Linked DNA regions of Homo sapiens: all the other regions are linked to region 1. Evidence: fine-mapped expression QTL. A gene starts in region 1. Each other region holds a variant in brackets. All regions are shown on one strand. Distances are between the middles of the regions. Region 1 holds the start of MYO1G (myosin IG). Region 2 overlaps CCM2 (CCM2 scaffold protein). Region 3 has its middle 17 kb from the start of TBRG4. Region 4 has its middle 29 kb from the start of MYO1G.

Region 1 (2,687 bases):
TAGGTACTTGAATAAGTACTTTCAGTTTTATCAGGAATGCATTTGCTTTAAGGTATTCGAGAGAAAAAAATAAACTTAACTTGCCTATCCATTACTTCAAAGTTTAAAAAATGGGATGACTGAAAGACAATAGTTAAACTAGTGCTTATGAGTACAACAAATCTCAAAGGCAGCACATGAATGACTGAAGTTTGGGAATTCTGGAGTCTGCCCTTTGACCTCCCTGTATGAGGGAAGGGGTGAAAGAGAAATGTCACCAGTCTATTTGTAGGATGAGAGAGAACTGCATCCATTTGACCTTTGATGAGAGAATCGCCCCAGTGTTCCTAGAGGATGGGTGTGACCTGCCCCAGTCTGTCCTGGGATGAAAAAGAACTTTTTCCAGTCTGCCTGGAAGCTAAGAGAACTGCACCCCTCCCACTTCTTCCAGGAGCACTAAGTGTCAGGAATGCAGTGTCTGGAGATTTTGGCCACTCCCTAAATGCAGCCGCTCCCCAAATGCGCTGCCTCATCTTCAAAGTGCAGGGACAGCAGCTCTGAGATGAGGCCACAGGGCTCCAGGCATGTTCCTGGTCCTCACTGCAGTTTATGGGGGATCGGCTGGACACAAGTACAAGGCAGAGGACAGTTAGGGGCACAGGGGTCCCACTGAAGGCCAGCCCCATGCAGAGGATGCTCTGGGGTCCTCTGTCCCTCCCCCGTGGCTGGGGTGGGGAATTGCAGTGCTAGGACCACTGGCCCTTGGCAGGTCACACAAGAAGCTTTGCTCGTCTACACCCCAGTGTGGCCTTCACACTGCAAAGAAGGCTGTTGCCCCCACCCCAAAGGCCTGGGCATTAGGATCCTTTTTCATTTTTGTATTAATGTACAATGTACATACAGTATATTGCATCTAGTGTTCAGTTCTGACTTGAGAGACACACACAGCCAGGTAACCAAGATCACGTCAAAAAATCTTTCTTTAAAGTCCCACAAGTGACTCTAACGTGCTGCCAGGGTTGGAAGCCAACCCACGGAGTCTTGTCTCCTGCTTGTGGGTGGAGGGGAGCTTCCGAAGGAGGCCAGCGAAGAACCCTCCAAAGCGGGGAGGACCCAGCATCCGGCCCCTCGCCCCTGGCGTGCAAACGGGTCAGACCGTTAGGCACAGCCTCCTTGTGGGGCGCAGGGACAGGAAGCAGGGTTTAGAGCACCTCGAGGGGGAAGGAGTGGCAAGTGCGGAGGGCAGCCCCTCCCAGGACTAGAACCCACTTCCTACTTTACACCAGCACTGGAGGAGGCTGGTGGGGCAGGGCGGGGGCGGTGGGGCCTCCCCTAGCCTTCCCTCCCCCTCTCCTTCACTGTCCTTCCAGCAGGCACAGGAAGGTGAGGCAAGGTGTTTCCAGCCGGCAGGATGGAGGACGAGGAAGGCCCTGAGTATGGCAAACCTGACTTTGTGCTTTTGGACCAAGTGACCATGGAGGACTTCATGAGGAACCTGCAGCTCAGGTAGGCCCAGGGCAGGAGGCAGTGGCTCCCCTCCTCCAGGGTCTCCCACCTTGCGTCCTCGCAGAGACCTGAGGGAAAGAGGAAGGCACGCTGCTGTCCAAGGGAGGGGGCAGTGGCACACACCCACCCAGACCAGATGGGGCTGAAATGAGTGCCTCAAAGCACGGCCCCAGGGGACAGGAACAGACAAGGAGGCAACTGTCCCTGTCAGGGCTGGCAAGTCAGCACCGGAGCTGCCCACCACCTCAACCCACCCCTGCCTCCCACACAGTCCAGGCATCTTCTGCCCCTTCTTTCCTGCCCGACGGGGCCAGGGCATGACACTTCTTGGACAGATACATACCAGGCACTATCTTTCCAGGAGGGACCAGGGGCACCTCCCTCCAGCCACTTCCCAGCCAGTTGTTGATGCTCCCTCGATGCATCTCATCCATGGGGCCTGGCCTGAGCCCTGGGGACACTGAGATGAAGCAGTCAGGCTCCACCCTAGGGTCCAAACATTCCCACCAAGTTGAGGTGACATTCTCCTGGGGTACATGGAGTATCACAGGACACAGTTGGTAGAAGTGATATTGGAGCCCAATTTACCATCAAGGAGGGCAGGTGGAGGGCAGGGAGAAGCCCGGGAGGTAGGGGCATGGCACAGTAGGGTGGCCATACAGGCAGCTGGGCTTCCTGCCAGGACTCCCAGGGAGGGGCAGAAGGCCACTCGCTGTGTACTCCGGAAGCTCCCTGGGGAGAGCTTGGGGACCAGGATCCCCACTAAGCACCGAAGGCAAGAGACCACGAGCCTGGCTCAAAGAGGAGGGCTAGCCAGGACGTGAGCTAAGCACTTTGTGCACATTGTTCTACCTCATTCTTATAAAATGAGCTTATGAAACATTGTCCTCTCTATTTTGATGAGGAGAACACTGAGCCCTGGAGACGTGGGTGACTTGTGCCCTCATCCCCAGCTTGTAGGAGGATGGGAGCTAGGCCCAGGAAAACCCATGTCAGAGGTGGTGGAGAAAGAGGAACCTCAGGACAGGCCCACCCAGGACAGGCTGCCGGGAGACAGGGCCATCCAGGGAAGGGTGGGTACCACACACCAAGGGGAGATGGGTCTGAGGGGCAGGCCTGCCAGTCCTCCTCCCAGGGGCAGAAAGGTCAAGAGAAGGGCAGACATCCACCCCCACTGGGGACCAGGTTTGTGAAGGAAAGGG
Region 2 (2,687 bases), 57 kb before region 1:
CCTAACTCTGATGACTTCACACCCTATCCAGCATTTCATGAGGGTTCTGAAGGCTAATCCTGCAATCAAAGTCACCTTAAAGAGTGAGAATCAGTGAGAGAGCAAGAGAGGATTACAGCAAGCCTCGCCTGCAGAACCCAGGAAAAGACCTGACACTTCATTCACAATAACTCCGTAAGAAAGCTTTTCATCACCACCTTTGACAATGGCGGCGGGGGGTGGGGGTCTGGGGGGAAGCAATCCCAAATTGTGCTGAGAGATCATGCTACAATCCCTATCTACAGTCACCCAAAGGAACATAAACCCGAGAAAACAAGACACTGATGTGCAGCCGCAGCAAGGAAACATCACGCAGGCCTGCAAAAACCAGAGCCGTGACTAAGAGTGAGAACTTATTCCCCACCATCTCCTCCATAACTCTCAACAGAGGAAACGCAGGAGGAGATGACAACACTCCTTTTGCAGGTGCCTGCCAGGATAGGGTGACCCAGTGCACAGATGGCAGCCGAAACCCCCACAGTAGGCCAAGCTCAGACCCCCCTTATCACCAAACACAGAAACTAACAAAACATATATACAATAAACCACCAAACTTTCATTAAAAGCTCTCATTTCTGTCTCTCTCCAGCATATGGGAAATTCACCCATATGCAAAATCCAATATAAAACGGTGTAGCAGAACCTGTGGTCCTATAAGGACACCTCCTCAAACCCACCAATTTCACAGACAATTGCAGCCAAGGACTACACTATTCAGTAACCACTCCTGAAAAAAGCAGAAATTGGTCGTCCAGTGGCTCCCAGCAGGCCCTGCAGCTGCCTCCCTAATGAGGCTGGGGTTGGACCCTGCCCTGTATGAGCCCCTCCCCACCACCACCATCATGCTCAGCTCTCCAGCATTAGCGGGAAAAGTAAATAAGCAAACAAAAGCCACCCCAAATAAAACAAATCCTCAAAGAGCAAAACCCAACATTTTTCCTGACCCTGCTGCCTCCTGACAGCCAAGGCTGAGCTTTCTGCTCCTCAGCTTCCTTCTTACCTTTATTTATTTCACCCTTTCATAGCTGGGTTTTTATTCCATTCACCCACTAAAACAGACATGGAATCAGGAAGCTCTTTCAATAAAAACGAAAACAAAAAACACAACAGAAAGTCTTGCTTCCAGAGAAGTGCACTAACGCTGCCACCACGCCTCTGTCACTCTGTCCCCTGTGTTTCCTGCATCTCACGCACCCTTTGCCAGCTCTCTTTCTTCTACCAGTAAAGATAGATGTTCCTCAGGTCCTAGGCATGATCTCTGCTCCGGCATGCATTGGGCTGCACCACTTACTAAGCAAACTGGTTGGATGAGCTCTCACCATCTGCACAACAGGCTAACAATCCTTAGAGAAGTGCCACAGGCAATCAATACAATAATCTACATAAAGTTCTGAGCACGTCTGATATGTTGTGAACAAGCAAAATATATA[C/T]CAGTTAATTTTATGACTGTATTTACCTTGACAATAAGTTAAAATTTATCTCTTCTTCCACTGCTGTCTATACATATATATATATATGTATATATGTATATAATCAGACTGTCTCCTACTCATCACTACCACAGACTATAATAAAGTTGGACCAGCATCACAGCCTAAGCTCTTCATTCGTGCCCCCAACAGGTGACACACCTGTGACCCAGGCTTAAAGCCCTATAATCTGCTAAAATGCTTCCTCTCTCACTTGGGCTGACTGGACCCACCCCTGCATCCGCCTTCTTCACCTGGAATAGCTCCCCTTGCCCGACCTGGAATAGTCTTCCCTTGACCCAGAGTGGTTCCCCATTGACCTGGAGTAGTCCCTCATCTACCTGAACTAGTCCTCTCATAGACCCAGAGTAGTTCCCCGTTGACCAGGAGTAGTCTCTCCCCTTTGACCTGGAATAGGCCCCCTCCCAGGTCCCATTCTCTGCTGCTCAGTACATCCGGTGGTAGGGGAGAGCATGGAGTAAGGATGACTAAAGGTCCTCAGAGTTGGTAACAGTTGGAGCCAGATGATGTATACAGTAGCTTTGTTAACTTTTCTCTGTATTTTTTTAATATTTGAATTTTTAAATATTTTTTGAAAATGATGAATATATTTTCTGCTTCCTGCTGATTACACTTAAACTGAGGCAAAATATAAAAGCATAAAAAATTAAGATCACCAACATCCTTACAAGATGATCCGCTCTAAGACGAACCACAGAGGGGACAGAAAGTGCTCCCAGGCTGGGTGCAGCGGCTCACGCCTATAATCCCAACACTTTTGGGAGGCCGAGGTGGGTAGATTGTTGAGCTCAGGGATTCAAGACCAGCCCGGCAACCTGGTGGGACCCCATCTCTACAAAAACTACAAAAATTAGCCAGGTGTGGTGGTTCACGCATGTAGTACCAGCTACTTGGGAGGCTGAGGCAGGAGGTTGCTTGAGCCCGGTAGGTCAAGGCTGCGGTAAGCTGTGATCATGCCATTGCACTCCAGCCTGGGCAACAGAGTGAGACCTTGTCTCAAGAAAAATAAAAACTTTTTAAAAATGCTTCCAGAAGCTGGGTGCAGTGGCTCACACCTGTAATCCCAGCACTTTGGGAGGGTGAGGCAGGCAGATCACTTGAGGTCAGGAGTTAAGAGACCAGCCTGGCCAAGATGGTGAAACTCCGTCTCTACTAAAA
Region 3 (2,687 bases), 150 kb before region 1:
AGAAAAGGGGAAAGCGGGAGCCTGGAGCCCCGAGAGGTGTGAGGGCAGAGGTGTGGATCAGGAGGGGCTGAGCCGGCTGGAAGGGGGTCAGGCTGTGGCAGGGCCTAGCCTCTGTGGGACTTGAGACGTCAGAGTTAGAGCAGAGCTGGGGAGTAGGGGCCAGGGACAGAGGGTCTTTGGGACCCCTGGGGGCAGCCAAGACAGCGGGTAAATCAGGGGCTCCAGGTGTGTGCCACTTCATGCCAGCAGCCCACACAACCATGTGTCCCTAAGCTTGGTTCAACATTCTGCTCTTATGCCTTGAAATCCTTAATTTCACCTGTCAACATATGTGCTAGTAAGTGAAGTCTGGTGGGACAATGGAACAAACACACATGTGACCCACATGTGCAGCAGGCCTGGCCATCCCATGTGCACAGGTCCCAGAAAGGCACAGACGGAGTGGGGCCCTGGCTTCCCGACAGGCTGGAGCCACAGAAGGATGCGACGGGTCTCTGAGAAACACGAGCAGCCCAGGAGCCCTGCCGGCCCTTTCCTGCCTGCCTTATTCCCGTAGGAGCCAGCCAGTTACTCTGAAAAGGACAGCACAGCAGGAAAGGGGAAGACAGTAGCCAAGTGCCTTCCTTGCTTGTCCGGTAGCCAGAGAAGGAGAGCCTTGGCAGGGCATGTACATGTCAACAGGTGAAATCACCAGTGCTCACAGCGGTACTCCTCACGGGGGCCAAAAGGTGGAGACAGCCCAATGTCCATCAATAGATGAATGGACCAACAGAGTGTGTGCATGCACACCAAGGAATACTATGGTACATAAACAGGGTGAAGCACCGACACGTGCTACAACATGATGAACCTCAGCAGCCACGCTCCGTGAGATAAGTCAGGCACAGCAGGTCACACGTTCTATGATTTCATCTCCATGAAATGTCCAGAATAGGCAAATCCACAGAGACAGAAAGTCAATTGGCAGTTGCCAGAGGCTGGGGACGGAAGGAAATAGAAAGTAACTGATAGTGGGTACTAGGTTTCTTTTTAGGGTGATGGAATGTTCTGGAATTAGAGGTGGAGGTTGTATGACGTTTTGGATGTACTAAAAAACACTCAATTGTACACTTTACAATTGGGGGTGAATCTGACGGCATGTGAATTACATCTCAATAAAAAATTAAAATAGGGCTGGGTGCGGTGGCTCATGCCTGTAATCCCAGCACTTTGGGAGGCCGAGGTAGGCGGATCACTTGAGGTCAGGAGTTCAAGACCAGCCTGGCCAACATGGC[G/A]AAGCCCCATCTCTACTAAAAATACAAAAAAATCAGCCGGGCTTGGTGGCAAGCACCTGTAGTCCCACTACTCAGGAGACTGAGGCATGAGAATCGCTTAAACCCAGGAGGCAGAGGTTGCAGTGAGCCGGAGTTGTGCCACAGCACTCCAGCCTGGGTGACAGAGCAAGACTCTGTCTCAAAAAAAAAAAAAAATTAAATTAAATTAAATATTTTTATCTTATTAAAATAAGATAAAAATAAAGAATGCAACTTTTTATCCTTATTAATATACAAGTTCATATAGATATGAATGGCCATAAGAGGCAAAGCAGACCTAGGGTGCTAAGAGTGTCTGGCCACAACATTGGTTACAGCAGGTTTGATGTAATGGAGGGAAAGTTTAATCTGACACATTCAGTCAACCAGTTCCTTGTGTCAGAAGAGTAAAACTGCTTAAGAGGAAGCTGTTTCCTCAGAACAACAGATGGATCCAAAAATATTAAATAAAAAGAAATGAGAAAAAAATAAGTGGAACAAAACCAGTTGAGTTAGTTTTGTGCAGCGTTTGCACTGTTGTATATGTGTGCCCATGTGAGCTACAAGGTAAGAATTGTGTGATTGGGTGATTCTGCCTAAGAGCTCAATGCTCTTGTGTTTGCCTTTGAATTGGCATTGTACAACATAAAAATGACTGCTGATACTCATGTTCATAATAAGAAATTTTTATTTTCATTTACTTAAATTGACACATTGTGAAAAGCATCATGACAAGTACAGAGAGACTGTGGAAGAGAAAAATACTTTTTTATTCTAGTACCTTTACCAGTACTTTTTTTCCATTTGTTGAACAAGGTGCCCTGAAAATGGCATAGCTAGCTCTGGGGGCACCCTGTGGAGATGGGAAATGCTGGTGAAGGAAGTGCCCCTCTGTGCTGTCAAGGAAGAAGGGACTAGGTGTGGGGTGGGGGGCAGGGGGAGGGCGCTCACAGTGTGAGTCTGTGGCCAGGGATCTGAGTTCTTGGGATGGATGGGTCAGCTCTCACCTCAGACCCAGCATCGGCGACAGAAGGACTCAGATCTTCTAGCCAAATCCACTCATGATGTAGGTAGGAACGGACAGAGACAGAGAAAAGGGCCACCAAGGCCTGCCAGTAAACAATCACGGCCTTGCCACCTTCACTTCCCCAAGCCCTGGACTCCACCAGGTCTCTGGTGTGTGTGTAGCTCCCTTCCCGGGAAGGTGGAACAGCCTACGTGAAGCATTGGGTAAACTTCAAGCCATGGAGAGGCACAAGAGGTGGCAAGTCACCATGGCCAGAGTGTCCATGCTGGCTACCCCAGGAAGGGCCTGGGTTGAGGCCCACTGCTTTGCAGAGGGACTATAAGGGCCGTGATGGAGCCATGTCATGCCATGGGCACGTACAGGAGGCA
Region 4 (2,687 bases), 29 kb after region 1:
AATTCTCATATGATCCAGCAATCCCAATTCTGGGTATATGTATAAAAGAGTTGAAAGGGATCTTGAGGAGACATTTGTACATCCATACGTATAGCAGCATTATTCACAATAGTTAAAAAGTGGAAGCAAGCCAAGTGTCCATTGATGGATGAATGGACCAACAAAATGTGGTATATACACGCAGTGGAATATTATTCAGCCTTAAAAAGGATGAATATTCTGACACATGCTACAATATGGATGAACCCTGAGGACATTATGCTAAGTGAAATAAGCCAGTCACAAAAAGAAATCCTGTCTGATTCCACTTATATGAGGAACCTGGAGTCATCAAATTAATACAGACAGAAAGTAGAATGGTGGCTGCCAGGGGCTGGGGGAAGGGAAATGGGGAGTTAGTGTTTAATGGGGACAGAAATTCAGTTTGGGAAGATGAAAAAGTTCTGGAGATGGATGTAGTGATTGCACATCAATGTGAATGTACTTAACACCACTGAACTGTGCACTTGAAAATTGTTAAGATGCTAATTTTTTTTTGAGACAGGGCTTGTCCTGTTGCCCAGGCTGGAGTGCAGTGACAGAATCATAGCTTATTGTAACCTTGAATTTCCAGGCTCATGTGATCTTCCTGCCTCAGCCTTCTCAGTAGCTGGGAGTACAGATGAGCACCACCACACCTGGCTAATTTTTAAATTTTTTGTGGAGATGGGGTCTCGCTATGTTGCCCAGGCTTGCCTTGAACTCCTGGTCTCAAGAGATCCTCCTCCTCAGCCTCCCAAAGTGCTGGGATTACAGGTGTGAGCCACAGTGCCAATTACTAGCTTCCTAGATTGTCACTAGAGATAGCACCTGGCTTCCTGCAAGTTTGACTTATAGCAGGTTGGCACCCCAGGCTGGTTACTGTAGATAAAAGAGGTTGTGGCTGGGCTCGGTGCCTCACGCCTGCAATCCCAGAACTTTGGGAGGTTGAGGCAGGTGGATCACTTGCACCCAGGAGTTCAAGACCAGTCTGGCCAACATGGTGAAACCCCATCTCTACTAAAAATACAAAAATTAGCCGGGCATGGTGGCGGACGCCTGTAATCCCAGATACTCAGGAGGCTGAGGCAGGAGAATTGATTGAACCCGGGAGGCGGAGGTTGCAGTGAGCCGAGATCGCGCCACTGAACTCCAGCCTGGGCAACA[G/A]AGTAAGACTCTGTCTCAGAAAAAAAAAGAAAATGTTGTTTTCCTGGGTAGGTGGCTGCAGGCTGTACTTCAGAGTTCTAGTTGTACAAATGGGCTGGTTGTCCATTTTGTATACAACTCCACACTCACAATACATTGGTGATTTGCATTATACATTTGTCTGATAGGTTTGGGTTAGTATGAGTTACTCCCCCAAAGTCTGACCAACTCTGCAAATACTCAGGACAAGTTCCAGAAATGACAAGAAACAGCCTAGGATCTGGTAATGAGATCCAGGTGTCAGAGAAGGGGCCTTATTGGAATAGACACCAATCTCTCTGAAAACCGTCACATGATTTCTCTTTAGAATTTTAATATTCATAGCAAATTAGGGGGAAATGTGCCTGTCAGATGACACAGGTCTTTGAATCTGATTAGACAGTAAAATATAAAAACAGTGGCCGGGTGCAGTGGCTCACTCCTGTAATCCCAGCACTTTGGGAGGCCAAGGAGGGCAGATCACGGGGTCAGCTGTTCAAGACCATCCTGGCCAACATGGTGAAACCCTGTCTCTACTAAAAATACAAAAAATACCTGGGTGTGGTGCCGGGCACCTGTAATCTCAGCTATTCAGGAAGCTGAGGCAGGAGAATCATTTGAACCAGGGAGCTGGAGCTTGTAGTGAGCCGAGATCACACCATTGCCCTCCAGCCTGGGTGACAGGGCGAGACTCTGTCTCAAAAAAAGAAAAAAAAAACAGTGACAGATTTCGAATTGGATTATTTATTCAAATTAGAGCTCTGTTTCTTGTTTTGGGGTTAGTATTAGGTTTCAGGATAAATTTAGTGCTAGAGTTGGCACCGGGCTTAGGGTTATTAAAATGAGCATTAGGACTAGAGTTGTTTTTAGTTGACGAGTTGGGGTTAGAATTAGAATTAGAGTAAGGGTTTACATAGGAGTTTTGTTAATCCAGGGTTTGCTTAATGATAGAGTTAATATGAGGGTAAAGATTAGTGCTGAGGTTTAGTGATACTATTAACAGTTAAATTGAAGGTTAACGACAGTGTTGGAGTTAGGATTAGAGTTGGCAATTTGATGAAGTTCATGACTATAATAAGGTAATATTTGGGGTTAGTTCAAATATTAGAGTTAGAATTAGTATTGGGTTAGGGCTAAATTTGGTGTTAGAGTTAAATTTGGATTAGTTTTGGCAATATGATTATATTTATGATTATGGTTAGGCTTAATATTTGGTTGGTATGAGGATTACCTTTAGACTTAGGGTTGGAGTTAAGGATATCGTTAGTGTTTAGGTTAATGGGGTAGAGTTGAGGTAAAGTTGATTCTCAGAGCTGGAGTTAGTTAGGGTTACAGTTAGTTTAGGGTTAGATTTAAGGTTAGGGTTAGTTTTGGGTTTGAAGTTCAGGTTAGGATTAAATTACATTTGGGTTAGGCTTAGTGTTAGGGTTTAGAATTAATGCTAATTTGGGGATTGGGTGTGGTTAGAGTATTGTTAGTGACAG

What was found. PIP is the estimated chance that this variant, and not a neighbour inherited with it, causes the effect.
Region 2: its variant is fine-mapped to the expression of MYO1G in whole blood (INTERVAL, PIP above 0.99).
Region 3: its variant is fine-mapped to the expression of MYO1G in whole blood (TOPMed, PIP 0.97).
Region 4: its variant is fine-mapped to the expression of MYO1G in whole blood (TOPMed, PIP above 0.99).

What each region holds. Positions count from the first base shown.
Region 1 is chr7:44,977,665-44,980,351 of GRCh38, reverse strand. It overlaps MYO1G (myosin IG), which reads left to right and starts at 1,337. Exons shown (of 22, transcript NM_033054.3): 1 at 1,337-1,485. The coding sequence starts at 1,391. RefSeq lists enhancers at 955-1,004, 1,035-1,104 and a silencer at 1,305-1,394.
Region 2 is chr7:45,034,696-45,037,382 of GRCh38, reverse strand. All of the region lies in intron 1 of CCM2 (CCM2 scaffold protein), which reads right to left. Among named protein-coding and RNA genes, the nearest start is that of CCM2, 36 kb to the right of the region's middle. The variant C/T (reference allele first, on the strand shown) is at 1,470.
Region 3 is chr7:45,127,395-45,130,081 of GRCh38, reverse strand. No RefSeq gene overlaps it. Among named protein-coding and RNA genes, the nearest start is that of TBRG4, 17 kb to the right of the region's middle. The variant G/A (reference allele first, on the strand shown) is at 1,275.
Region 4 is chr7:44,948,250-44,950,936 of GRCh38, reverse strand. No RefSeq gene overlaps it. Among named protein-coding and RNA genes, the nearest start is that of MYO1G, 29 kb to the left of the region's middle. The variant G/A (reference allele first, on the strand shown) is at 1,186.